Linked DNA regions of Homo sapiens: all the other regions are reported to be linked to region 1. The links are microRNA targets in miRTarBase. Many come from high-throughput screens and were not tested one by one. Region 1 holds a microRNA gene; each other region holds the end of a gene's coding sequence.

Evidence for each region. Region 1 holds the annotated microRNA hsa-miR-877-3p (UCCUCUUCUCCCUCCUCCCAG, at 1,070-1,090, shown strand). A microRNA usually pairs through its seed, bases 2 to 8, with sites in the 3' UTR of a target mRNA and lowers its output. Matches are read on the target gene's strand: a 7mer-m8 pairs with bases 2 to 8, a 7mer-A1 pairs with bases 2 to 7 and ends in A, and an 8mer does both.
Region 2: miRTarBase lists TCERG1 as a target of hsa-miR-877-3p. The part of its 3' UTR that is shown has no 7-base or 8-base seed match.
Region 3: miRTarBase lists HSPA2 as a target of hsa-miR-877-3p. The part of its 3' UTR that is shown has no 7-base or 8-base seed match.
Region 4: the mRNA of DZIP1L is a reported target of hsa-miR-877-3p. Seed matches in the 3' UTR shown: 7mer-m8 at 3,676-3,682.
Region 5: miRTarBase lists RNF10 as a target of hsa-miR-877-3p. The part of its 3' UTR that is shown has no 7-base or 8-base seed match.
Region 6: the mRNA of CDC123 is a reported target of hsa-miR-877-3p. Seed matches in the 3' UTR shown: 8mer at 811-818.

The regions. Positions count from the first base shown.
Region 1 is chr6:30,583,328-30,587,416 of GRCh38, forward strand. It overlaps MIR877 (microRNA 877), which reads left to right and starts at 1,005; the gene lies at 1,005-1,090. It overlaps ABCF1 (ATP binding cassette subfamily F member 1), which reads left to right. Exons shown (of 25, transcript NM_001025091.2): 11 at 281-381; 12 at 478-563; 13 at 865-1,004; 14 at 1,091-1,239; 15 at 1,933-2,016; 16 at 2,231-2,355; 17 at 2,552-2,664; 18 at 2,807-2,978; 19 at 3,147-3,221; 20 at 3,314-3,384.
Region 2 is chr5:146,510,038-146,514,126 of GRCh38, forward strand. TCERG1 (transcription elongation regulator 1) reads left to right here. Exons shown (of 23, transcript NM_001382548.1): 23 at 404-1,924. The coding sequence ends at 605. It overlaps GPR151 (G protein-coupled receptor 151), which reads right to left. Exons shown (of 1, transcript NM_194251.3): 1 at 3,107-4,089. Among named protein-coding and RNA genes, the nearest start is that of GPR151, 4.1 kb to the right of the region's middle. RefSeq lists a silencer at 595-795.
Region 3 is chr14:64,542,074-64,546,162 of GRCh38, forward strand. HSPA2 (heat shock protein family A (Hsp70) member 2) reads left to right here. Exons shown (of 1, transcript NM_021979.4): 1 at 1-1,164. The coding sequence ends at 696. Among named protein-coding and RNA genes, the nearest start is that of HSPA2, 3.4 kb to the left of the region's middle.
Region 4 is chr3:138,059,068-138,063,156 of GRCh38, forward strand. It overlaps DZIP1L (DAZ interacting zinc finger protein 1 like), which reads right to left. Exons shown (of 16, transcript NM_173543.3): 16 at 2,923-3,910. The coding sequence ends at 3,749. Among named protein-coding and RNA genes, the nearest start is that of CLDN18, 51 kb to the left of the region's middle.
Region 5 is chr12:120,576,119-120,580,207 of GRCh38, forward strand. RNF10 (ring finger protein 10) reads left to right here. Exons shown (of 17, transcript NM_014868.5): 17 at 472-1,470. The coding sequence ends at 548. POP5 (POP5 ribonuclease P/MRP subunit) reads right to left here. Exons shown (of 5, transcript NM_015918.4): 3 at 3,656-3,805; 4 at 3,396-3,479; 5 at 2,646-3,294. The coding sequence ends at 3,200. Among named protein-coding and RNA genes, the nearest start is that of POP5, 3.2 kb to the right of the region's middle.
Region 6 is chr10:12,249,547-12,253,635 of GRCh38, forward strand. It overlaps CDC123 (cell division cycle 123), which reads left to right. Exons shown (of 13, transcript NM_006023.3): 12 at 35-172; 13 at 765-1,043. The coding sequence ends at 791. Among named protein-coding and RNA genes, the nearest start is that of CDC123, 55 kb to the left of the region's middle.

The DNA of each region.
Region 1 (4,089 bases):
TGCCAACTTGAGCAAGAAGATAGAAAAACCAGTAGAAGTGGGGTCCACCCTTGGCAGAAAATAGTGTGGGACAGACTAGACTAGCTGAGGATGCATGGGGCTCCCATTACAGGCAGCGAACAGGGCGGGGACCGGCTGTGGGGAGAGGAAGGGGATTATGCTGGAGGTAGCGGTTTGTCAGAGGCTTCCCTGCAGGGAGAAAGTGGCCGCTCCTGTCCCAAAGGGAGAATTTTCATGTGATCATCCCTTCCCTCTGCCACCTCTTTCCTGATGGCTGCAGCTGGAGAAGTTCAGCATCTCCGCTCATGGCAAGGAGCTGTTCGTCAATGCAGACCTGTACATTGTAGCCGGCCGCCGCTACGGGCTGGTAGGACCCAATGGGTGAGAAGAGGAGGGAGCTGGAGGCAAAAAAGGGCCTGGAGGGAAAAGAAGAGATTTCTCAGTGGTGGCCAGGTCCTAATAGCTTTTATTCCCCAGCAAGGGCAAGACCACACTCCTCAAGCACATTGCCAACCGAGCCCTGAGCATCCCTCCCAACATTGATGTGTTGCTGTGTGAGCAGGGTGAGACCACTGGGGAGAAAAGGGGCTTGGTGGGGTGGGCAGTTGGGTAGAAAAGCCAGCCAGCCAAGAATAGAAGAAATTGTGGCTATGGAGTTGGAAGGGATGTGGAGGGAGACTGGAGACCGGGAAAGGGATGCTAAGGAAAGGAGGGGAGGGTCAATGAGGAACTTGAGAGTGTTTTATTTGGAACAAGTACAAAGAGCTGGGCAGGGTCAGGCAAAACAGAAATGTAATTGAAGGGAAAGAAAGATGAGACTCTTGGCTCTTGAGGCTGCCTGACTGTTCTCCCTCTGCCTCCCAGAGGTGGTAGCAGATGAGACACCAGCAGTCCAGGCTGTTCTTCGAGCTGACACCAAGCGATTGAAGCTGCTGGAAGAGGAGCGGCGGCTTCAGGGACAGCTGGAACAAGGGGATGACACAGCTGCTGAGAGGCTAGAGAAGGTAGAGGAGATGGCGCAGGGGACACGGGCAAAGACTTGGGGGTTCCTGGGACCCTCAGACGTGTGTCCTCTTCTCCCTCCTCCCAGGTGTATGAGGAATTGCGGGCCACTGGGGCGGCAGCTGCAGAGGCCAAAGCACGGCGGATCCTGGCTGGCCTGGGCTTTGACCCTGAAATGCAGAATCGACCCACACAGAAGTTCTCAGGGGGCTGGCGCATGCGTGTCTCCCTGGCCAGGTGGGCCATTCACCTCACTGCCCTCCCTTCCAGCCTCAGACCACCGGGGCCCTTTTCCTCTTTCCCTTCTCATTCTTCCAAGGCCAATAGGGAGGCTCAAGGCTTACCTCTCCCTCCTTACTATCTGTGTTGTGAGAACTTAGGGTCTTTCTCTATTTATCTCCCTACTTGGTGGTGAGTTCTCATCAACATACCCTGCAGCTGGGTGCAATGGGTCACGCCTGTAATCCCAGCACTTTGGAAGGCAGAGGCAGGAGGATTATCTTCAACCCAGGAGTTTGAGACCAGCCTGGGCAATATAGTGAGACTCTATCTTCACAAAAGGGGGAAGAAAACATATCCTAGCCTGGGCAACATAGGGAGACCCTGTCTCTACAAAAAATTTAAAGATCAGCTGGATATGGTGGCGCACGCTGTGGTCACAGCTACTCTGGAGGCTGAAGTAGAAGTATCACTTAGACCTGGGAGATTTAGACTACAGTGAGCCCTTATTGTGCCACTGCACGACAGCCTGGGCAACAGGGCGAGACCCTGTCTCAAAAAAATTAAACCGTATCCTGCCCGAGAACTTCTCTGAGGAGAGCTTGGGAAGGAGTGTTCATGGTCTCAGGCTCTATCTCCGAGTTTTCTCTGGGGTTGTCTGAGCAAGGATCTTTCTCTCCCTGACCCTGCCCTCTGCTACCCACCCTCTAGGGCACTGTTCATGGAGCCCACACTGCTGATGCTGGATGAGCCCACCAACCACCTGGACCTCAACGCTGTCATCTGGCTTAATAAGTGCGTTACGGCCTTTGCATCATTGGTTCCCATTCTGCACTTTCTTCCCCTTCCCTCCCTGCCCTGTTTTCCTTTAGCCCTTCTCCACTGTGCCTGTGAGTGGAGCTCTATTCAGACCCCCCTTTCCCTCCCAGCCCCCGTTGTCTGCCTGCTTCCTCTGAATTCTCTCTCACTTGACCACTGTGACACTTACACCCTGTTCTCTGAAACCCAGCTACCTCCAGGGCTGGCGGAAGACCTTGCTGATCGTCTCCCATGACCAGGGCTTCTTGGATGATGTCTGCACTGATATCATCCACCTCGATGCCCAGCGGCTCCACTACTATAGGGGCAATTACAGTAAGTAGGATTGTGTGTGGATGCAGGGAAGAGATAGAACCTCGAAAAGAGGCCTGAGTGGGAGGGCCTATTTAGATAAACTGAATCCTGTCAGAATTCCAGACAGTGATGCCTACCCCATCACCACCAGTCCCTGGTTGTCCCTTTGCTGGGAAGAGGAGCAACCACTGATGCCTGGTCCCCTCTTCTGCCCCAGTGACCTTCAAAAAGATGTACCAGCAGAAGCAGAAAGAACTGCTGAAACAGTATGAGAAGCAAGAGAAAAAGCTGAAGGAGCTGAAGGCAGGCGGGAAGTCCACCAAGCAGGCGGTGAGCACCTGAGGGACTTCTGGGCTGGGGGCCACTGTTCTCTCCTGGCAGTGGAGGAAGAAGGAGACTCTGGAACGCTGGCCTACATTTCAAGGACTGCCGCGCAGGGCTCAGGTTTCTCTTTTTTCCTCTTCCTCTCCAGGAAAAACAAACGAAGGAAGCCCTGACTCGGAAGCAGCAGAAATGCCGACGGAAAAACCAAGATGAGGAATCCCAGGAGGCCCCTGAGCTCCTGAAGCGCCCTAAGGAGTACACTGTGCGCTTCACTTTTCCAGACCCCCCACCACTCAGCCCTCCAGTGCTGGGTCTGCATGGTGAGTGCCGCGGGCCTCTGCTGCTCCACAGGAAGCACCGGAAGCATGTATGTGCACCCTAAATTCTCCACCAAGGCTGAGATTGCTCCTGTTCTCCAAGGCCAGCACATGAGAGGGACTTTGCAGGGACTGAAAAGAATATAAATTGCTTCTTTTCGTGGCTTTCAGGTGTGACATTCGGCTACCAGGGACAGAAACCACTCTTTAAGAACTTGGATTTTGGCATCGACATGGATTCAAGGAGTGAGTTGGCGGGGTTGCCTCAGGGATGTGTAGCAGGAGCCACAGGGAGAGTCTCTGGGGACCTCTTTGACCACCTGTCTTCCATCTTGCAGTTTGCATTGTGGGCCCTAATGGTGTGGGGAAGAGTACGCTACTCCTGCTGCTGACTGGCAAGCTGACACCGGTGAGTCCTGGAGCCAAGGAGGGAGAGCATGAGAAATGTGAAGACACAGCTGCTTTTGCCAGAAGCTGGAATCAGGGAGCCTCTCGAGAATGTAGAGTTAAATACAGAACTCATGATAGATGATTCATTTCCCTAAGAGGGGCAGTAGAGGAGGAAAGAGCTTAGATCAGTTCAGGGGGGAGAGCTAAGAGAATTAAGATAGAACTAGGGGGCACACCCACGTGTTTTGGTTATACAAGAAATATATGTCTTTTATAGAACGATTAAAAATTGCATAAACGGGCCAGGCACAGTAGCTCACTCCTATAATCCCAGCAGGGATCACCTAAGGTCAAGAGTTCCAGACCAGCCTAGCCAACATAGTGAACCCCGCCTCTACTAAAAATACAAAAATTAGCCGTGTGCGGTGGCGCGCACCTATATCCTAGCTACTCAGGAGGCTGAGGCAGAATTGCTGGAACCTGGGAGGCGGGGGTTGCAGTGAGCTGAGATTGCACCATTGCACTCCAGCCTGGGCAACAGAGCGAGACTCCATCTCAAAAAAAAAAAAAAAAATTGGCCTGGCGTGGTGGCCCACGCCTATAATCCCAACTCTTTGGGGGAGGCTGAGGCAGGCAGATCACTTGAGCTTAGGAGTTAAAAACCAGCCTGAGCCCAGTGTGGTGGCTCACACCTGTAATCCCAACACTTTGGGAAGCCGAGGTG
Region 2 (4,089 bases), not on the chromosome of region 1:
AAGTAAGACTTCTTTCTACATTTTTATAGTTAATTTAGTGAAAGATGTGAAAGTGAAAGCTTGTGAAAGATGCTGGGATTGGCAGCCCCGCAGACTGAAGTCCTCTGTTCATCCACAGAACAGGTACAGCACGGGCAAGATTTACCCACCCACCCTCAGCCCTGATCTGGAGGGACCACCACTAGGGGTGGGAGGGTAATTCAGCTTCTGAGGCCCTTTCACTCCTTGGAGTCTTTGCTGAGGCGACTTACAAAGGTGACCACTGCCGTGAAATTTTTCTTAAAAAAAAAAAAAAAAAAAAAAATGGAAACACAATTAGGAACTAGATGGACATTTCCAGCTCATTTCTGAAAGACCTGTGAACAGCAGTCAGTAATTCTTGGACTTCTTTTTCTTATTTCAGATCCAAAAAATTAATCCAAGAATCAGATCAGCACCTGAAAGATGTAGAAAAAATTTTACAGAATGACAAACGGTATCTAGTACTGGACTGTGTGCCAGAGGAGAGGCGTAAACTGATTGTGGCATATGTTGATGACCTGGATCGCCGGGGTCCACCCCCACCTCCCACAGCATCGGAGCCCACGAGACGATCAACAAAATAATTCTAAATACTCTTCCATAGGGGCATCTATTCAAAATGCTTGCATGAGCCAATTTTCAGGTTTTTACATATATGTGCATTAGTCAACCTATTGCGAAACCATCTGACAAACAGAAGGAGAAGCATTTGTGAACAGTTTCTGAACAGAACACTTTGGAAATATTTATGCTTTTCTTTGTGTGGCATGACTGACATACATACTCAAATATAGGCTGTCTCTAGTAAATCTTAAAATCTTGAAGCTAAAATTCATCCTTTTATGAGGTGTGGAAGTCAGTGACTTGGTGACGTTCTTCCTAGCAGTGTTAATACATGCAAGAAGTAAGAGCATTTGTGGCTTGAACTTGCCAGATGCAAATACCACAGACTCCAAGAAAACCCGAGTTGGGGTTTGTTTTGTTTTGATTTTTTTTTTTTAAAGCGGGTAAAAGAGAAAACACTGAAAATTGAATTCTTATCTTCCAGAGGCTACAATTATTATAATGGACAATACTTTTACCTTTGTCTCTAAAGATCAGATTAGTTTTATTTGTTCACTTACGTGCTTTGATTATCCCCTCTGAATTATAGACCGAGTCTTGTTGTTTAGCCTAAGAGAAGATTTATGTAGTAATTTCTTCTCAGGTATGGAACCACGGTCATAACTAACATGTTGGCCAGAATAGAACCACTGGTTAAACATATTTTATTCACCATTAAGTGATCTTTATCAATATTCTGGATTAGACAACAAATTACCTTTCTGGGTGTTTCTTGTAAACTATACTCCTGTTTGAATGTTAAACTTTGTTGCTAAAGTTTAATTTTAAGATGTTTGAATGTTCAGTTTATGTATTTGAACTACAATAAACCAACCCTTTTTATATATCTGTATTGTATATGATTATTGTTACTTAATTTTTAAGAGCTTATTTTAACCTGTTTTTAAAAGCAGCAAATAGAATTTCCCACAAAGTAAGTTGACTCTAAATCTTAAGTATTACCTAGTTTTTAAAGGTTTGAATATAATAATGCAGTATTTGCAGTATAAAAAGGAAGGAATTTGTAGAGAATCATTTTGGTGCTCAAGTCTCTTAGCAGTGCCTTATTGCCTCATAGCAAGAAGATGCTGGGGTTTTTTTTGTTTTTGTCCTTTGTATTAATGTATGATGGTTTGCGCCTTTTTGGCATTCTTTCAACATGTCGTGTACATCACACCATGAATCAGTTCCTAATTGATATATCTAGCTTTACCTCCCGAGTTAAAAAAAAATCTTTTTATTTTATGCCTTCATAGGTTGCTCGTTTCAGAGTGCCACATAAATAAAATGTTTAACAAAATATATATGTTAATAGAATAATTTATTTTCCATTATCTCATACCGACTATGATTGTAACAAATCCTAGAAAGAAGGAATACCAACAGATCTGTATTTGTATGTTGTGTGCATACAGTCACAGACACACACATTCACATCCATGTTATATAGTTCATAGCTTAAATCTATTAAGTGCCATGGAAATTTTGTGAACTCTTTATGTAGGAACCTGGCATTGATCAGACTAAGGTCTTCAGCTGTAAAGTTGATAAACAGGATATGTTTTTTCTTTTTATGCGTACAAAGGATCTTACTCTGTCTCCTAGGCTGGGGTGCAGTGGTGCCATCATAGCTCACTGTAACTTTGAACTCCTGGTTTCAGTGATCCTTCTGAGTAGCTGAGACTGCAGGCATGCATTACCATGTCTGGCTTTTTTTTTTTTCTTTTTAAAATTTTTTTGGAAATGGTTTCACTCTGTTGCCCAGGCTGGCCTCAAACTCCTAGCCTCAAGCCATTCTCCCACCTCGGCCACCCAAAGTGCTAGGATTACAGGCGTCAACCGCCACACCTGGCCGCCTTCTGTTTCCTTTTTTTTCTTTCTTTGAAGTTCATTTTATAAGTTCATTGAGTGATTTTTAAGTACTGTGAGGAATGAAATTGAAGTGCTTGCCAAAAGGAGCACAACTATTATGTAGTATGTAGAAATACGACTGTCTCACAAGGGTAAAGTTTCCAGAATGCCTTATTTTGTTATTCTGAATTCCACATAATATTGTTTGCCCACTTACTACGTTGTTTCTCACAGTAGAGAAGTGAGAAGAAAACAGTTTGGTGATATCTGTTCTAATTTCCTACTTTTGTCTTAAAGTATCTGGGTTTGATCAGATAAGATACAAATCAAACTTCTCTAAGCAGATTTTTTAAGGGATCAAGTCGGGACTTAACTTTGTGTATCAGGTTCTTAATGAAAGGTTCATTGTAATTACTCTTTGTTCCAGTGTCTGCATCTTGATTTGGTGCTTGTTAGCAAACTCTGAAAATCAGTTCACCTTGAGACCTGTTCCAGTGTTAAGGTCAAACAGCCCCATAAAGCTCCATTGTTCCTAATAATGATTTTGGAATGATAATTCAAGACAAAGACAGCTTTAAATCTCCAAAAACTATCGGAAGTAAAGCGTAATTATTTTTATTTCTTTACAAGTTTAAAGTGTCAAACCCTGGAAGCTTACATCCTAAATTTACTACATATAATGAACATAAAAATTATTTATTCAAATAATCACAGACAATGATAATCCTTTTTATAACTACCATATCACAAGACAATATTTTGGATTCTTGGGTTAAATTTTACTTTATTTGAATACATGAGCTTCAAATAAAATTTGTAATGAAGGATGTAAAAAGAATACAGCCCTACCTCCTGTGTTAAAAAGCAAACTATGACCACTTATGAAAAAGCAAAGAATCCGGAAACCCATAGACAAAAAGCAAAATCTTTTTTTTTCCATAACATATCCTTTATATTTCAGATTCTCCATGGCTTGGTTTGCCCTAAAGGCATTTCTATTCTGAGGGAAACTTTCAGTGAAAATACCCGAGTTCCATAACAAAGTAATCAAGAATCATGGGTGAATGTCATTATACTTAAAAGGGGCAGAAATATATCATAATCATGTTTTATTGGGTATGTTTTACCTTGCTATAAAATGAATGGTTATTGCCTGTTACTCAGATTTTACCGTATGTCTGGGTACACAGTTTTACTGCTTTCTGCATTGCCCTTATGCTTTTTATTTTGTATTCTTAACCAAATTCTGTCTTGGTTTGTTGAATTTTCTCTTTTTGATATTAATCTCTTTCTCAGGTTGCTAGATTATTTTTATAACTTAGCCTATAGTATTTTAAAAGTTGAGTAGGGTTCAAGTTCAATGTTCTGAGTAAGGGTAAGTTTAGTACCATTAACAAGAAAGATCACCATCTCCATCTTCTATTTGTATTTGAGGAGTAATCTATACCTATATCATTAACCATGGTTTATCTTGGGAGAAAGGAGATATTAGGAGGAACACATTTCTGCTTATAGAAAAATAACTTTCCCACATTTTGGAAGTGAAGAGAGGACATTTTTTTAAGTATTTTTTCCCCCATATCAGACTACTGAATGTCATTGGAAAGCTGCTAC
Region 3 (4,089 bases), not on the chromosome of region 1:
GCTGGCGGTGTCATGACCCCACTCATCAAGAGGAACACCACGATCCCCACCAAGCAGACGCAGACCTTCACCACCTACTCGGACAACCAGAGCAGCGTACTGGTGCAGGTATACGAGGGCGAACGGGCCATGACCAAGGACAATAACCTGCTGGGCAAGTTCGACCTGACCGGGATTCCCCCTGCGCCTCGCGGGGTCCCCCAAATCGAGGTTACCTTCGACATTGACGCCAATGGCATCCTTAACGTTACCGCCGCCGACAAGAGCACCGGTAAGGAAAACAAAATCACCATCACCAATGACAAAGGTCGTCTGAGCAAGGACGACATTGACCGGATGGTGCAGGAGGCGGAGCGGTACAAATCGGAAGATGAGGCGAATCGCGACCGAGTCGCGGCCAAAAACGCCCTGGAGTCCTATACCTACAACATCAAGCAGACGGTGGAAGACGAGAAACTGAGGGGCAAGATTAGCGAGCAGGACAAAAACAAGATCCTCGACAAGTGTCAGGAGGTGATCAACTGGCTCGACCGAAACCAGATGGCAGAGAAAGATGAGTATGAACACAAGCAGAAAGAGCTCGAAAGAGTTTGCAACCCCATCATCAGCAAACTTTACCAAGGTGGTCCTGGCGGCGGCAGCGGCGGCGGCGGTTCAGGAGCCTCCGGGGGACCCACCATCGAAGAAGTGGACTAAGCTTGCACTCAAGTCAGCGTAAACCTCTTTGCCTTTCTCTCTCTCTCTTTTTTTTTGTTTGTTTCTTTGAAATGTCCTTGTGCCAAGTACGAGATCTATTGTTGGAAGTCTTTGGTATATGCAAATGAAAGGAGAGGTGCAACAACTTAGTTTAATTATAAAAGTTCCAAAGTTTGTTTTTTAAAAACATTATTCGAGGTTTCTCTTTAATGCATTTTGCGTGTTTGCTGACTTGAGCATTTTTGATTAGTTCGTGCATGGAGATTTGTTTGAGATGAGAAACCTTAAGTTTGCACACCTGTTCTGTAGAAGCTTGGAAACAGTAAAATATATAGGAGCTTAAATTGTTTATTTTTATGTACTACTTTAAAACTAAACTGAACATTGCAGTAATGTTAAGGACAGGTATACTTTTTGCAAACAAATGCATAAATGCAAATGTAAAGTAAAGCTGAAATTGATCTCAAAGTTACTGTCTTGGAGTTTTCAATTTTCCTTCCTTTATATTTTACCCATATTCGTCTTTTAAGATGTTAGTATGATGTGAAATTTATCTAACCAATCTTGTTTAATTCCCAGATGAGGGTGCTGCCTTGAATTCCAACAACTTAAGGGGAGAAGAATCTGGGTAAACTTCACCCACCCTTAAATACAGAAACCTGACTTGGGGTCTTCCTAGTGTACTCACACTCCTACAACTTAAGTGTCCAAATGAAAATTCACCTGAATATTCCAGGAAAATATGAGCTATATTCTGGGGTTAAATGTAAAATGAGCCTTTAACAAAAGCTGGGCAGAAGTTGTCTTATAATTGCCAAAGGAAATATGGAAACAAATTAATTTTGTGACATACAGGAGCCTGAAACAAGAGACAGCAGGCAAGCTTTCAAGTGACTTAATAGTGAGTATAAATTTAGTCAAACTTGTTTAATTTTCTAGTAAAACAGCTCAACTTCTGAGCTTATGGCAAATTCTAATAACATGTTTCCCGCAGTTAGAATTACTTGGGTAGGGAAACATAATTATTATTATTTTTTTCTGGTTTGGGGATCATAACGTTTTTGCAATACTTGCCTTAAATCACTACGATAGATTTCTTTTTTAAAAGGCAAACTGTACTAGATAGTCTTGTATTTTGTTAATATACAACTTGTCCATTTTCCTCCATATCCAATTTGAGATTGTTATAGATAAGAATATTGCAACCCTTTGGTGATCCACTATCCTGGACTTAATCTTTAAAATTCACATCCTTCAGAGAAAGGAATTCATTTTTATTTTTTAGTGAAATGACATGACTACTCTTTTCTTACTCTCTTTAAGGAGAACTTGAGAGAAATTCAGTAAAACCAATAGGAAAATGCATAGTTAACCTAATGTTTTTACTGCACATAGACGTTTTGATATCTTTCCACATGATGCAGGTTTGCTTCATGCTGCTCATAAGACAATAGTTATGAAAGCTTTATCTTCAATTTAGTAGTGGACCCATCTGTGTCATTCAGAGAGATTAATTTTATGAATAATGGAATGAGTAATAATTTTAAAACTAGCTAAGAAGTTAGCCTAAGAATACTGGCCTTTGGTAATGACCCTTTCATACAAGAGTTGACTCTTAAGTACACATAAGGTGTTTTTTTTTTTTTCCTTTTTAGCAAGCCTCATTTGGGTAGGGGGGAGGAAGATAAATAGCCAACAGTGAAATTGCTTCAACATAAAAACCTTTTTTTTTTTTTAAAGGAAACTGCTTTTTATACTCTGAAAAGCTAAAGATAACTCCAATTTATCAGTGCTGGTGTCACATTGGTGGAAATTTTTCAGCAATGAGCATTTAAGGGTGTTTCATGGACTACAGGCATAAATATGTGACAAACTACTATGGTACTACAAAATCAGGTTAATTGTAGCTTTAGAGTGACGTTTACTGTGAGTTTTACCAAGATAATACCCATTCTGTTACCCTTTTATTAGTCCTTTATTTGTTGAAAGTGTTCATTCCTTGCTCTAACTTCAAAATATAATGGAGTCCTTCTGTAAATGCAGTTTGGTATGACTCATTTTAGACCTCACTTAAGAGATTAGTTTCTAAAGTATCAGAAAATGACCATTGGTAGTTTTTGATCCTACGGCCTGACCTCCGGTAGCTTGCTATAATACTAACATCAATCTGGGCAGATACTTCATTTTCTATTTTGAAAAGTAATTTGTAAAACTCAAATTCTTGAGTTTTACATTCTTGAGCATTCTTGAGAGTGTTTCTTATTTAATTCTCTCTTTTCAAATTTACCAAGATTTGCATATTACCAAGATAAAGCCACCAAAGTAGCCATTCACTTTCCAGGGGTCAGTTGAAACTTGTAACCTGATAACTCCTGGGAACTCCTTAGCAGATGTTAGATCAGCCATAGTCAAATAACAGTGGAAAAAGTACTTGATGTTAGGATGGGGCTAAATTACAGTTTAAGGATTCTCCGACAGGCACTTATCTGAAATTCTTTTTTTTTTTTTTTTTTTGAGACGGAATTTCACTCTTGTTGCCCAGGCTGGAGTGCAATGGCTTGATCTCGGCTCACTTCAACCTCCGCCTCCTGGGTTCAAGCGATTCTCCTGCCTCAGCCTACCGAGTAGCTGGGATTACAGGCATGCACCACCACACCTGGCTAATTTTGTATTTTTAGTAGAGATGGGGTTTCTCCATGTTTGTCAGGCTGGTCTGGAACTCCCGACCTCAGGTGATCCGCCCGCCTTGGCCTCCCCAAGTGCTGGGATTACAGGCGTGAGCCACGCGCCAGCCCACTTACCTGAAATTCTTATCTGAATGTTTGATTAACATAGTTGTCCCTGTTTTGAGGGAACAAATATAGACACCTGTCAAACGAAGACATAACTAGTTGTTTACAGTATTTGAGATGTGTGAAATTTCAAAACAAACTCACTTTAAATTTTTTATAGTATTGATTTGATATGTATAATGAAAATGCATTAAAACTTGTACATTAGGAGATCTTAGTACAATTTACAACTGTTAATTTAACATGTATGTGTAATATTATGTTACCCATTCAATATGTAATGGAGACTTAATGAGTATTTCTTTTTTATGTATAATCTTAAACAGTAATACAACCTGGCTATCTAGATGAAATCAGAAAATCTATTTTTATGATTTTCCAATAGTGGACCTATAACATATTCTTACTTTTAACTGAATGTAGTTTATAAAGGTTGTGTTGTGAGGCATGCTCCTCTTGCTTTTGAACACGATTTAAATTGAAGTTTAAAAATATCTCACATCCGTATGTCTCAACTGTTAAGGGAATATATATGTTTGGATTCAGAAGCAGGAATATTCAATTGTGTAATGTATAAATAGGTGTGAATAAACTTCTGAAT
Region 4 (4,089 bases), not on the chromosome of region 1:
ATAATAAAGAGATAAAGAAAACAGCAACAAGAAAAGTGAACTACGGGCAACTCATAAAAGAAGAAATAGCAACAACCAACATGAAAAAGAAATAAAAAATAATTTTACTTTAGAAGAAATCTTAAAAATGCAAGTTTCTTAAAAGGTGAGGTTTCATTTTTCACGTATCACGTGGCCAAAACATTGAAAGATTAATGATATCCCTGGTAGCAAGGGAATGCAAAAACTAGCTTTCTTGTGTGCTCCAAACACTAGTAGACTAAATTGGCTCCAGTTTTCTGGAAAGCATTTGGCAATATGTAACAAAAGTACATGGGGAAAGGAGCTAGAGTGCCAGGGCCAGGCTGCCAAAGTCAGATTGCAGTCACACCACTCACTGGTGGCAGGACCCAAAACAAGTTTCTTAGCTGCTGTGTACCTCAATTCCTAGCCCATGAAATGCATGTACTATAATAGTGGCATCCATCTCAAGGGCTGCTGTGAGGCTAAATCATAATATTGGTACCAAACTTGGACCAGTGCCTGGCATATGGTGCTGGCTTTCATTATTATGTTGGCCCAGCAACCTCACTTCTAAGAATTTATTTTAAGGAAATCTTAATCAAGTGCACAAAGACACATATACACATTTTTTTAATCACTTCATGATTTATAAAATGCAAAAAGTAGAAATGTCTGGTTAAAAAAACTTTTGTAATCTTTGCCTGGAATACGAGGTGGCCATTATATATAACTGTCTTATATTTATACGTACTGACATGTACATGTGTACTGATATAAAGACATTTGTAATCTGTTTTCCAGGAGAAAATCAAGCTAGAGAAGAATATAGTTGAACCCTAGGAAGGAGTTTTTTTTTTCACCAGTGCATGTACATCTAGATGTTAACAATAATTGACTGAATTTGTGGGTTATATTCTTTTTGATTATCTGTATTTTCTAATTTTTCTGTATCAACCTTATCATTTGTCTAATTTTTAAATGATCTGTTACATACGTTCCACAGTTCTGGCAAATCTTGTGCTGGTTAATTTTAGTTCAATTTAATGAGAGCAAGAGATACCTGGACAGCTGTGAAGCATTACTTCTGAGTAGGTCTGAGAAGGTGCTTCCAGAAGAGATTAGCATTTGAATCAGTAAACTGAGTGAGGAAAATCTGCCCTCTCCCATTGTGGGGGACACCATCCAATCTGCTGCCAGCCTATATAGAAAGGCTTTCTCTCTGGAGTTGGGACACCCAGCTTCTGTCCTTGGATGTCAGAACTCCAGGTTCTCAGGCCCCAGGACCTGCACCAACAGTCCCAGGTTCTCCGGCTTTCGGATTTAGACTGAGCCACTCTACCAGCTTCCTTCATTCTCCAGTTTGCAGACAGCCTATGCCGTGATCACATCAGCTAATTCCCTTAATAAATCCCCTGTCATTTATTAGGGAAACTGGCTAATAAATACCCATAAGTATCTATCTATCCATATATCCTACTAGTTCTGTTTCTATTGAGACCTAATACAACTTACTAAAGAATTTTAAAATATATTTGAAAATGGGAAGGGGTGAACACAGCATAGAAACACCAAAGTAATACGTTAGTCAAACCCTCCAAAGTAGATAGAAAAACCCATTTGGAAACATATAACGTAATGATGAACATTCAAGAACAGAGACATTCTCATTGATAATCATCACCAGTGTGTGCACACAAGTCCAAACACATTTACTGTTTACATTTGCATTCCCCCAAAAGTGGAGCTAGAAACAAGGACTTGGGTGCAGATTAATTTACCTCAGAGGTGCTCATAAGAGAAAGAAGTAAGGGAGTGAGAAAAATGAAACAGAAAAGAGGAAGGCCGATGAACTATGCATTAATAATAGTAACTGCATACTAGTGAGAACTAGCACTCAATCCCACAAGGGACTCTGAGAAACTGTGCAGAATAAAACTCAGAGGTGCCCCACAGAAGCACAGGAAGCCTGGAGCAATTACTCATCAACTCCCATCCCATCAAGATTGTGGGCTGATCTGGTAGCATCAGCTCTCCAGCTCTCCTGAGCTTCCTCATTGAGCAGCTTCCTTTGTACGACAACACCCCCAGCCTGCCCCCTCCCCCAGCTACCCTACTCCACCACCAGACCCCTTTTGCTCCCTGCAGTGTGTTTCCTCCATCACCTTCCTACGAGAACTTCAAGGCCTCTCCAGGTGTCAGGACCACCCAAAGGTCAAAGGAAGTCTGGGTGAGTTGGAGGTGGTAATAGATGAAACAAGATTGACCTTGAGTTGAGCTGATAATATTTGAAGCCCAGTGATGAGCACATGGGTTCATCACACTATTCCCTTTACTCATATATGTGTTTGAAACTTTCCATAACAAAAAGTTAAAAATAGATCTTTGCTGTGTCAGGGATGGAGGTTCTTTGCTAGGTCTCCCTTTCAGGAAAAAAAAAAAAAAATGCCACTCAACCAGGAGAAATGAAATTGACTGACAGGTTCACTCCAAGGTTCACTCCAGCTTTCAAGTCAAGGTCTCATTCAGTCTGGGCCACCCCAGCCAATGGCCAAGTGCAGTGCAGGCATGAGAGCCTGGCCATTTCTGCACAATGGGGACTCCCAAGTGGGCAGTTCTTGCTCAGGAGCTCCCCACTGGGTCAGTGGAGACCTTGTCAACACATCAATGCCCTGAGTTCTCCTGGCTCCTCCAGCTTCCTTCTCTCTTTCTGTTCACAGTGGTCAGGTGTGCATTGCAGTCTGCGGCCTTTCCCCACTGGATCCTACCTCCACCTCCTTTTCTTTCCCAAGTGCAGCTCCTCAATAACTCCATCTTGGCAACCATGTCCCAAAAGACCTAAACTGACACAATTAAGATGCAGTTGCTTCCTTCCCTCCCAACCCCCTGAAAGCTCCAAAAATAATGAAATACATACCAGAGTTAAAAACATTGTACTATATTTAAATGTTTGCATATAATATATTAATGTTTTTCACACTAAAAATATACAATGGCTATGTATAAAACCTGATTTTGGAAATAATATCAAAAATTACACGTGTGGTCCTTTGGGGATACAAGGTCCAGCCAAGTGGCCATCCTCCCTTCCCACCCATGAGTAGGCCTGCCACATATCACAACCCTGGGAAACTCTCCAGGATCACCCAGGCTGGGATAGATGGCCTCTCATATGCTCCCCATAACACCCTGTTCTCTGTCACTAGATTACTACCTTGTGCTGGCACTGGCTGTAAACATTCTGCCCCAGCCTCTGCCTGCACCCTAACTCAGTAGTGAGAGGCTAGAGAGCCTGGCGCAGAGTAGGTAGGCACTCAGTAAATAATTTTGGATCAATCACTGAATGACTGACTGAGGCATATGTCCCCAAAAGGACCCCAGATAGGAACCATCTCCACAGTGTTCCTGCAGTTTTATAAAAGGCTTGGGAAAAGAGAGTTAGTGACTCTTTTCAGTCTTGGGGGGATGTGGAGGTAGAGGAAGAAAACTACCTGGAGGTTCTATTTTAACCCTTTCTCAAGCCTGGGGACCTAGGGGCTCCTAGTCAGGCACCTGTGGCCATCTACAGCAGGGCCCCTCACAGGTCAGGAGGGATGAGATCATATCCATTCCCTGCACTGCTTCTCTCCAAGAGGATGATCTCTTGGTTGTTTGTGAAGACAAGAGGCCCAGCAGCCTCTTCTGTTGAAGTGGACCTGAGCTGGCCCCAGCCAGGCTAACCCTCTAGCCAGCTAGCTTCTGGGGTGAATCACCAGGCAGGGACCCTGGGTTGGCCAGAGCTCTGTGGACCAGTGCCAAACTTCTCTGGGAGCTTTGAGCGAGACAAGGGCTTGGGTTTCTCTCTCTGGTCCAGGTCCAGAGGAAGATCTTCCAAGGAGGAGATCTCCAAGTCACTCTCATCTTCAGAAAGCTGCAGGGGGTAAAGGGGAGAAGAAAATGCATTTTGATAAGGGAGGAGGGTGGCTGAGAGCTAAGCACATTGCAGGATGGGAATGCAGAATGGAAATGGGGACAAATGCAGACTGGGAAGAAAGCAATAGGGAGATGCTACTCCTCCTGACTTCTCAAGTCTTCCTGCCTTTGAGAACC
Region 5 (4,089 bases), not on the chromosome of region 1:
ACCTATTTGCCACCCCAGAGAAATTGATGACGCCTGAAAGTGAAATTCTGAGGAACTCTTCCAAGATACAGTGGGGTGTACAACCTGTATCCTTTAGAATCTTGAGTTGGTACAGGGTGGCTAATTAGATGGAGAAGTCAGTCTCGAAGCCTGTTGCACTCTGTTCATGACTAGACAAGAATCACATATGTATGGCGTGCTATGTGCCTAGCACTGTGCTAATTCTCCCAACAACCACGTTAAATGGGTGTACCTCACGTTACAGATGGGGAAACTGAGGTCCAGGGAGGTAAAAGTGATTTGCCCAAAGACACCCACTTGGTGTATACCAAGACTGGTATTGGCATCTAGGCAGTCTAATTCCAGAGCCTCCACTCTTAGCTCCCACTCTGTGACTCTCAGTAATGAAAACTGGCCAGGGGACAAGGGATGGCATTTTAAGTTAAGCTGTCTTTCTGTGTCTCCCTTTAGAAGAGAAAGGAGGAAAGAAAAGAAAAAAACAGAAACAGAAGCTCCTGTTCAGCACCTCAGTCGTCCACACCAAGTGACACTACTGGCCCAGGCTACCTTCTCCATCTGGTTTTTGTTTTTGTTTTTTTTTCCCCCATGCTTTTGTTTGGCTGCTGTAATTTTTAAGTATTTGAGTTTGAACAGATTAGCTCTGGGGGGAGGGGGTTTCCACAATGTGAGGGGGAACCAAGAAAATTTTAAATACAGTGTATTTTCCAGCTTCCTGTCTTTACACCAAAATAAAGTATTGACACAAGAGATCTCTTCCTGCCAAGGTTTTTAGTTCATTGCCAGTTTAGTCTTTTTGACCCATGTGTAATTAATTTTTCTCAACCCAAAGTAAGATTGAGTCCCCTTTGAGATGCATTAGAGCAGTCCAACCCAGAATGGCACACACTGCTCTGCTGTAGCATCATGTCAGGGCTTCCTGGACTCAGTACACCTCTCAGTTTGTCTTTTAAAAAACAGCTGAATCTTTACTACCTATTTAGTTCTCCTTGTTAAAGAAACAGGGGTGGGAATAAAATGGATTTAGGACACCCAGTTTGAATTGCAGTTTTTTTTTTTCTGACACATGGCCAGGCTGTGGTGCCAGCTTAATGGAGTAGGCTGTCCTTGGCACTTGCATGTGTGAAAGGAGGGTTTTGCCTCTTCTTGAGCATGGCTTGAGTTGGTAAGGAAAGCTGTAACTCACGAAGCCCTGAGACCTGCTACCCCTAAGATCGAGCTTGTTTTCAGTGACTGGCTTGAGTCATAGGAGGAGGAGTCTGGTACAGCTGCAGGAGAGCAGGGCCATCTGAAGCGGTAGCATTGCCACCATCTCCCTCTCATCTAGAGCAGTTTTCTTATGCCTTGGTTTGAGCTGAATTTGATGTGAATTCTTTTGCTGCTTAATAAAGTGACCTCTAGGTGCATTAGAATGCGAAGGCAAATAGTTGCAATAAATCACCTGCACAAGCATTGTGAGCTTTTTGTTTTTTTAAGTTCATTACAGGTAAGCTAGACAAGTTATTTCTTGAATAGGTTAACGTGACAGCTACTATGATATTGTAGGCTGTCTTTTCTGGTGTCAGGTTTAAATGGTTCTAGAGCTGGGCTTAGCTTTAACCTGCCATTTTAAAAGAAATCCTATCAGGAAATTTCCTGGATGGATGAGGGTGTTCTGGCCTCCAGATGAGGGGGCATGTTGAAGCCAGAATCACCAGTGTTTCTGTTAAATGTGTATGGTACTTTCAGTCTCATCCATTGTATTATGGAGAAAACAGATCCCAGAAATGTCAGTAGGTAGCAGATCAAACCTGGATCACAAGTCTCCCGCCATTCCTACTTCCTGTGAGTATGGCAGTCTGACTTGTCTTCAGGGCGCCTTGTATTCAGGCGCAATAAGAGCGGAACTACAAAAACTACCTTAAGTTCCTTAAGTGGACAGCTGCTACATGACCATGCAGTAATGATGTCAGATGAGGCCAGCACCCGCGCCCCCCCCAACTGCAAAGGTTGCATTTTTTGTTTGAGACAGAGTCTCGCTCTAGCCCAGGCTGCAGTACAGTAGTGGGATCTCAGCTCACTGCAAGCTCTGCCTCCCGGGTTCACGCCATTCTCCTGCCTCAGCCTCCTGAGTACCTGAGATTACAGGCACCCACCACCATGCCCAGCTAATTTTTTGTATTTTTAGTGGAGACAGGGTTTCACTGCGTTAGACGGGATGGTCTTGATCTCCTGACCTTGTGATCTGGCCGCCTCAGCCTCCCAAAGTGCTGGGATTACAGGTGTGAGCCACTGCGCCCGGCCCAAAGTTGTATTTTTTAAGTTACCTGATTAACTATTGGCAAGGAATCTGGTATCTGTAAGACCCTGTGGTTCAGTACTGAGATGGGCTGTAGATCTCTGCCAGTTCAGTTGCTGTGTCTCAACTAATATTTCTATTCCAAATGACTTGGCTTGCTTAGGGCCCATCATGGGGCCGGGGGTACAAAGCTTCAGGTAGAAGGCTAAGTATTGAAAATTTAGGCCAGGCACAGTGGCTCACCCTTTAATCCCAGCACTTTTGGAGGCCAAGGTAGGCCGATCACTTGAGGCCAGGAGTTCAACAGCAGCCTGGCCAACATGGCAAAACCCCGTCTCTACTAAAAATACAAAAATTAGCCAGACGTGGTGGTGCACGTCTGTAATCCCAGTTACTTGGAAGGCTGAGGTGGGAGAATTGCTTGAACCCAGGAGGCGGAGGTTGCAGTGAGCCGATACTGGGCCACTACACTCCAGCCTGGGTGATAGACTGAGACTGTCTCAAAAAAAAAAGTTTAACTAGTACCACATAGGGAGTCAGTCTTCCCACCAAGGCTAGGGATAGAGAGAGAACAGAGACTTGGCCAAGCATGGACTCCATAAGCCCTTTCTGTAATATAAGTATGCTAAATGCCACGGAAACCAGATACATTTATTAAATCTACTCTTAGCCAAGCAATAAAGATGTCTACAGAGTTCACAACCTGCAACACTTCACCAGGGAATGCTAGGTAAAGGCAACTTCAGTTTAACTGAGTACTCCATTTCAAGTGGGTAATGTCTGCTGGTTGGCAGCTATCCAGTTTGGAAAACTGTGGAAGATGCTGTTGCTACCCAGATTGTTCTGTTCAACAAGTGGGCCTGAAGCCTGAGCAGTGTAGCCAGCTGTGTGGGGAGCAGAGGTTCACTCCATTGCTTCTGCAGCCTCCTCACCTGACTCCTCCTCCTCCTCTAATAAGCAGCTTCTTGTCACAGACTTCTGGATAGCTTCCCGCTCTCCTGGAGAAGGCAGATAACAGGGATGAAAGATATCTTTGGGAGTGATTTCTTCAGCTTAAGGTCAGTCACTGCTCAGTGGGCACTGGGCTAGTGTTGCTTACCTTCATCAGTGCAGTTCTGCAACAAGATCAACAGCTGTCTCCTGTTGTACTGAATTAGGAACTTCTGACATGTTCTTATTGTACCTGGCATATGAGTTACTGTGGTCAACAGCTTGTGAAAGATCTCGACCTTACAGACTTTCAGAGGTAGGGGGAAGTGTCTTGTTAGCGGGACAGCAGCAAGACCCACCCACCAGTTTAGACTGAACTGTGAACGTGTCACCAATTGAAAATCAGTAGCCATACCACCTCACTCCTACCTCCCACATGTAATGTGTTGAAAAAGCATGGGTAACGGTGTCCTTTGTTCTCCAAGTATGTGATGAAGGGAAGAGCTGACCACACAAGCTGATAGAATTCTTTTCTGCATCGAAGTAGCACTATTCCAGTATAGGCATTGAGATATCGAACTACAACAGGAAAGAAAAATCATTTTGGAAAACTTTTGCTCTGTGTGGTGGCTCACGCCTGTAATCCCAGCACTTTGGGAGGCTGAGGCGGGCAGATCACTTTAAGTCAGGAGTTCGAGGCCAGCCTGGCCAACATGATGAAACCCCGTCTCTACTAAAAATACAAAAATTAGCTGGGTGTGGTGGTGCGCACCTGTAATTCCAGCCACTCAGGAGGCTGAGGCATGAGAATCGCCTGAACCCAGGAGGCAGAGGCAGCAATGACCCCCGATCTCGCTGCTGCA
Region 6 (4,089 bases), not on the chromosome of region 1:
TTGATATTCTTTCTCCTTTTTCTTCTTTGTACAGGATTCCCCAGCTTTCCGTTGCACAAACAGTGAAGTGACAGTCCAGCCCAGCCCCTATTTGAGTTACCGGCTACCCAAGGACTTTGTAGACCTCTCTACTGGGGAGGACGCTCACAAGCTAATAGACTTCCTTAAGCTGGTAAAGTCTATGTGCATTTAGTATGCTGGCCATCTTTTCAAATAGACCTTCAAATTGGCTTTTATATAATATTTCATTGGAATCCTGTATCACCTAGACTTTGATGGTTATGAATGGAACCAAGTTACTGAGTTAGAGCATTTTCTAATTAAATATGAAATAGGAGCTGAAGGCATAATTTATTGATTAGAATGACAGAAAATGTTTTTATGCTGTACATGCCTTTTGAACATTTTTCAAAATACTTGTAACTTTGAAGAAAGTGTGTATATTGTTAGAAGGCTGTAAGGAGAGCAGGTCTCTGCTCTGGTGGTGATTTTACTCAAGAGGGGATGTGAATATTTATATTTTTGTGTGGATTTCTGTGTAGGAGTTTTTGTATGTATGGAAGAAAGAGAAGAAAATACTCAAATACCTGAGGATAATTTGCTCAGGAGTCAAAGTGATAAACTAGTTTAATGAATTAAAGCATGGTTTTCCATGACAATTTTTAATTACATCCTTTGCCAAGACCTCTAGAAAATTACACCTGCTGAGCAGATATCCCAAGGAGCATGTGCTATTTTAACATCCCCTTGGTTTTCTTTGACAGAAGAGAAATCAGCAGGAGGACGACTGATGAGCGTACTGGAACTGGAGAAGAGGAGGCCCCGCCCCACCGCTCCGGGAGCTGCTCATCAGCCGCAACTTCCTGCCGACCCTGATGCGGGTGGGCCGAGCAGTGTGGACATCAGCCACTTTTTATATTCATGTACATTCACCTGGGGAAAAAAACGGAGGGACTTTGCTACTTGTAAAAATAACATAATAAATAGATCTTAAACATAGGAAAACCATACTGTTCTGATAATAAAATGCTTTCTATGAAATACGTTGCTTTTCTACCGAGTCATTATTTTATTTATTTATTTTAATTTTAATTTTTTGAGACAGTCTCGCTGTGTCGCCCATGCTGGAGTGCACTGGTGCGATCTCGGCTCACTGCAACCTCCACCTCCTGGTTCAAGCGATTCTCCTGCCTCAGGCTCCCAAGTAGCTGGGATTACAGGTGCATGCCACCACACCCAGCTGAGTTTTATATTTTTAGTAGAGGTAGGGTCTCACCGTGTTGGCCAGGCTGGTCTGGAACTCCTGATCCTCAAGTGATTTGCCCACCTTGGCCTCCCAAAGTGCTGGGATTATAGGTGTGAGCCACCACGCCCGCCCTGTTTTGTTTAGGGACAGTCTTGTTCTGTTGCCCAGTCTGGGGTGCAGTGGCACAATCACAGCTCACTGCAGCCTCAATCTCCTGGACTCAGGCAGTCCTGCCTCAGCCTCCTGAGTAACTGGGACTACAGGTGCACACCACCACGCCCAGCTGATTTTTGTATTTTTTTGTAGAGATGGGGTTTTGCCATGTGGCGTTTTTAAAAGGCCACCATTTTTAAGTGATGATATCAATTGTGCCTAATTTACCGAGGCTTTATGATGTGCCAGACATTCTACTAAGAGCTCTTTCTGTATTAGTTGACATCACCAAGCAATTTGAAGGATACAGACATCACAATTTCCCAGGGTACCTGCCCGACGTGGTATCCGGTGGTAATCTTCGTCCTCAGTACTTGATCTTTGTATTCAGTACATCAGATGCCCTTTTTTTCTTTTTTTTAAGTAGTAGAGATGGGGTTTCCCTGTGTTGCCCATACTGATCTCAAACTCCTGGCCTTAAGCAATCCTCCTGCGTCAGCCTTCCAAACTGCTAGGATTACAGGTGTGAGCCACTGTGTCTGGCCTCAATTGCCATTTGTGGGGCCAGTTGTTTTTTTGTTTGTTTTTGAGATGGAGTTTTGTTCTTGTTGCCGAGGCTGGAGTGCAATAGTGCCATCTTGGCTCACCGCTACCTCTGTCTCCTGGGTTCAAGCGATTCTCCTGCCTCAGCCTCCTGAGTAGCTGGGATTACAGGCATGTGGCACCATGCCCAGCTAATTTTTTATTTTAAGTAGAGATGAGGTTTCTCCATGTTGATGGGGCTTGTCTTGAACTGCTCACCTCAGGTTATCTGCTTGCCTCGACCTCCCAAAGTGCTGGGATTACAGGTGTGAGCCGCCGCCCCTGGCCTCAACTGTTTAATGTACAGGTACTTCAGAAATACTTTTGTTTTTTTAAACTGCTTACAGGTGCCTATCCACCTATGATGGATTTAGTATCAAGGGTTGATTTTAAGTTTAGCTCTGGAAGCTGGCTTTGTCAAGATGGCATTTTACCAAGCCAAAAAAAAAGTAAATATATTTGATACCAATTGAAAACATTCAGACTAGGCTGGATGTGGTGGCTCATGCCTGTAATCCCAGCACTTTGGGAGCCCGAGACCGGCAGATCATCTAAGATCAGGAATTCAAGACCAGTCTGACCAATATGGTGAAATGCCATCTCTACTAAAAATGCAAAAATTAGCTGGGTGTGGTGGTGGGCGCCTGTAGTCCCAGCTACTTGGGAGGCTGAGGCAGAAGAATGACTTGAACCTGGGAGGCGGAGGTTGCAGTGAGCTGAGATTGCACCACTGCACTCCAGCCTGGGTGACGGAGCGAGCCTCCATCCCCCACAAAAAAGAAAACTATATTCAGACTATATAAAATAAAAAGACCCAAGCAAAATTTGGCAGAGAGTTCATAAACTGTACAATTCTCATTACACTTTTGCGCACATTTTCCTGGGGAAACTGGACTTCAACTCCCAGGTCACTTTCTAAAATGTGATTTTTGTGCATTGTTTACTTAGTGTATTTAATTTTAGTTGATTTTCCTGATGTTAATATCAGGAAATATAGGATACTATGCAGGAAATATTCTCCTAAAGCCCAGTATAATTTATGCCTGCCTAAAAATTACTTCTGTTTTAAGACAGAGTCTCACTCTATCTCCCAGGCTGGAATACAGTGGCACGATCTGAGCTCACTGCAACCTCTGCCTCTTGGGTTCAAGCAATTCTCCTGCCTCAGCCTCCTGAGTAGCTGAGATTACAGGTATGCATCACCACATCCAGCTAATTTTTGTGTTTTTAGTAGAGATGGGGTTTCACTATGTTAGTCAGGCTGATCTCAAACTCCTGGCCTCAAGAGATCCGCCCGCCTCGGCCTCCCAAAGTGCTGGGATTACAGGCGTGAGCCACCGCGCCCAGCTCTTAAGTTTTGAATCGTCCTTTTATTTTACTGGCATTTGTTCTTTCTTTGAGGTACCTCAGGCTTGTGCTTGAATTCAGAAAATGGAAACCTGTGTGCTTCCTCAGCGTGTCCCTGCAGTCCTTCCTTCTGAAGAGAAGACGCTGCTGCAGTTGCCTTTGAAGGGTTGGGGTAAATATGTGCTTTGTCCTGCAGGTGGTGTCATGTCGCATGGGCCTCCTGGAGACAGCACGCTTTGCCAGTTTTGTTTTCAAGAGTCTCATTTGATTTGCATTTTCTGAGTTCGTAAGGTTTTCTCATCTCAACCATTTCTCTTTTTGATGATTGAGGATCGTTAAAAAACAAGCAGAAACCTTATGTGACAGTTTTTTTGACTAAGTTTGTTACCTGCAAAGGGTAAGAAGAGTTTTCTGGAGTCCGTTAAGTGAGATAACTCATAAACCTGTAGCGTAGTGCACTGCACGTCACAGACCACAGACAAATGGTAGCTATTGTCAATCATTCTGCTTGGCAGACTTCTGTACAGTATATGAAAGGCACGTTCTTTTTAACAGAGTCAAGAAAAAAATATATATATATATTTAGTAGAGACGGGGTTTCGCCATGTTGACCATGGCTGGTCTCAAACTCCTGACTTCAGGTGATCCATCCACCTCAGCCTCCCAAAGTGCTGGGATTGCAGGTGTGAGCCACCACGCCCAGTCCCTTCTTTTCTTTTTTGACAGATGACGAAACTGCTCCCCAAAGATGTTGACTTTCC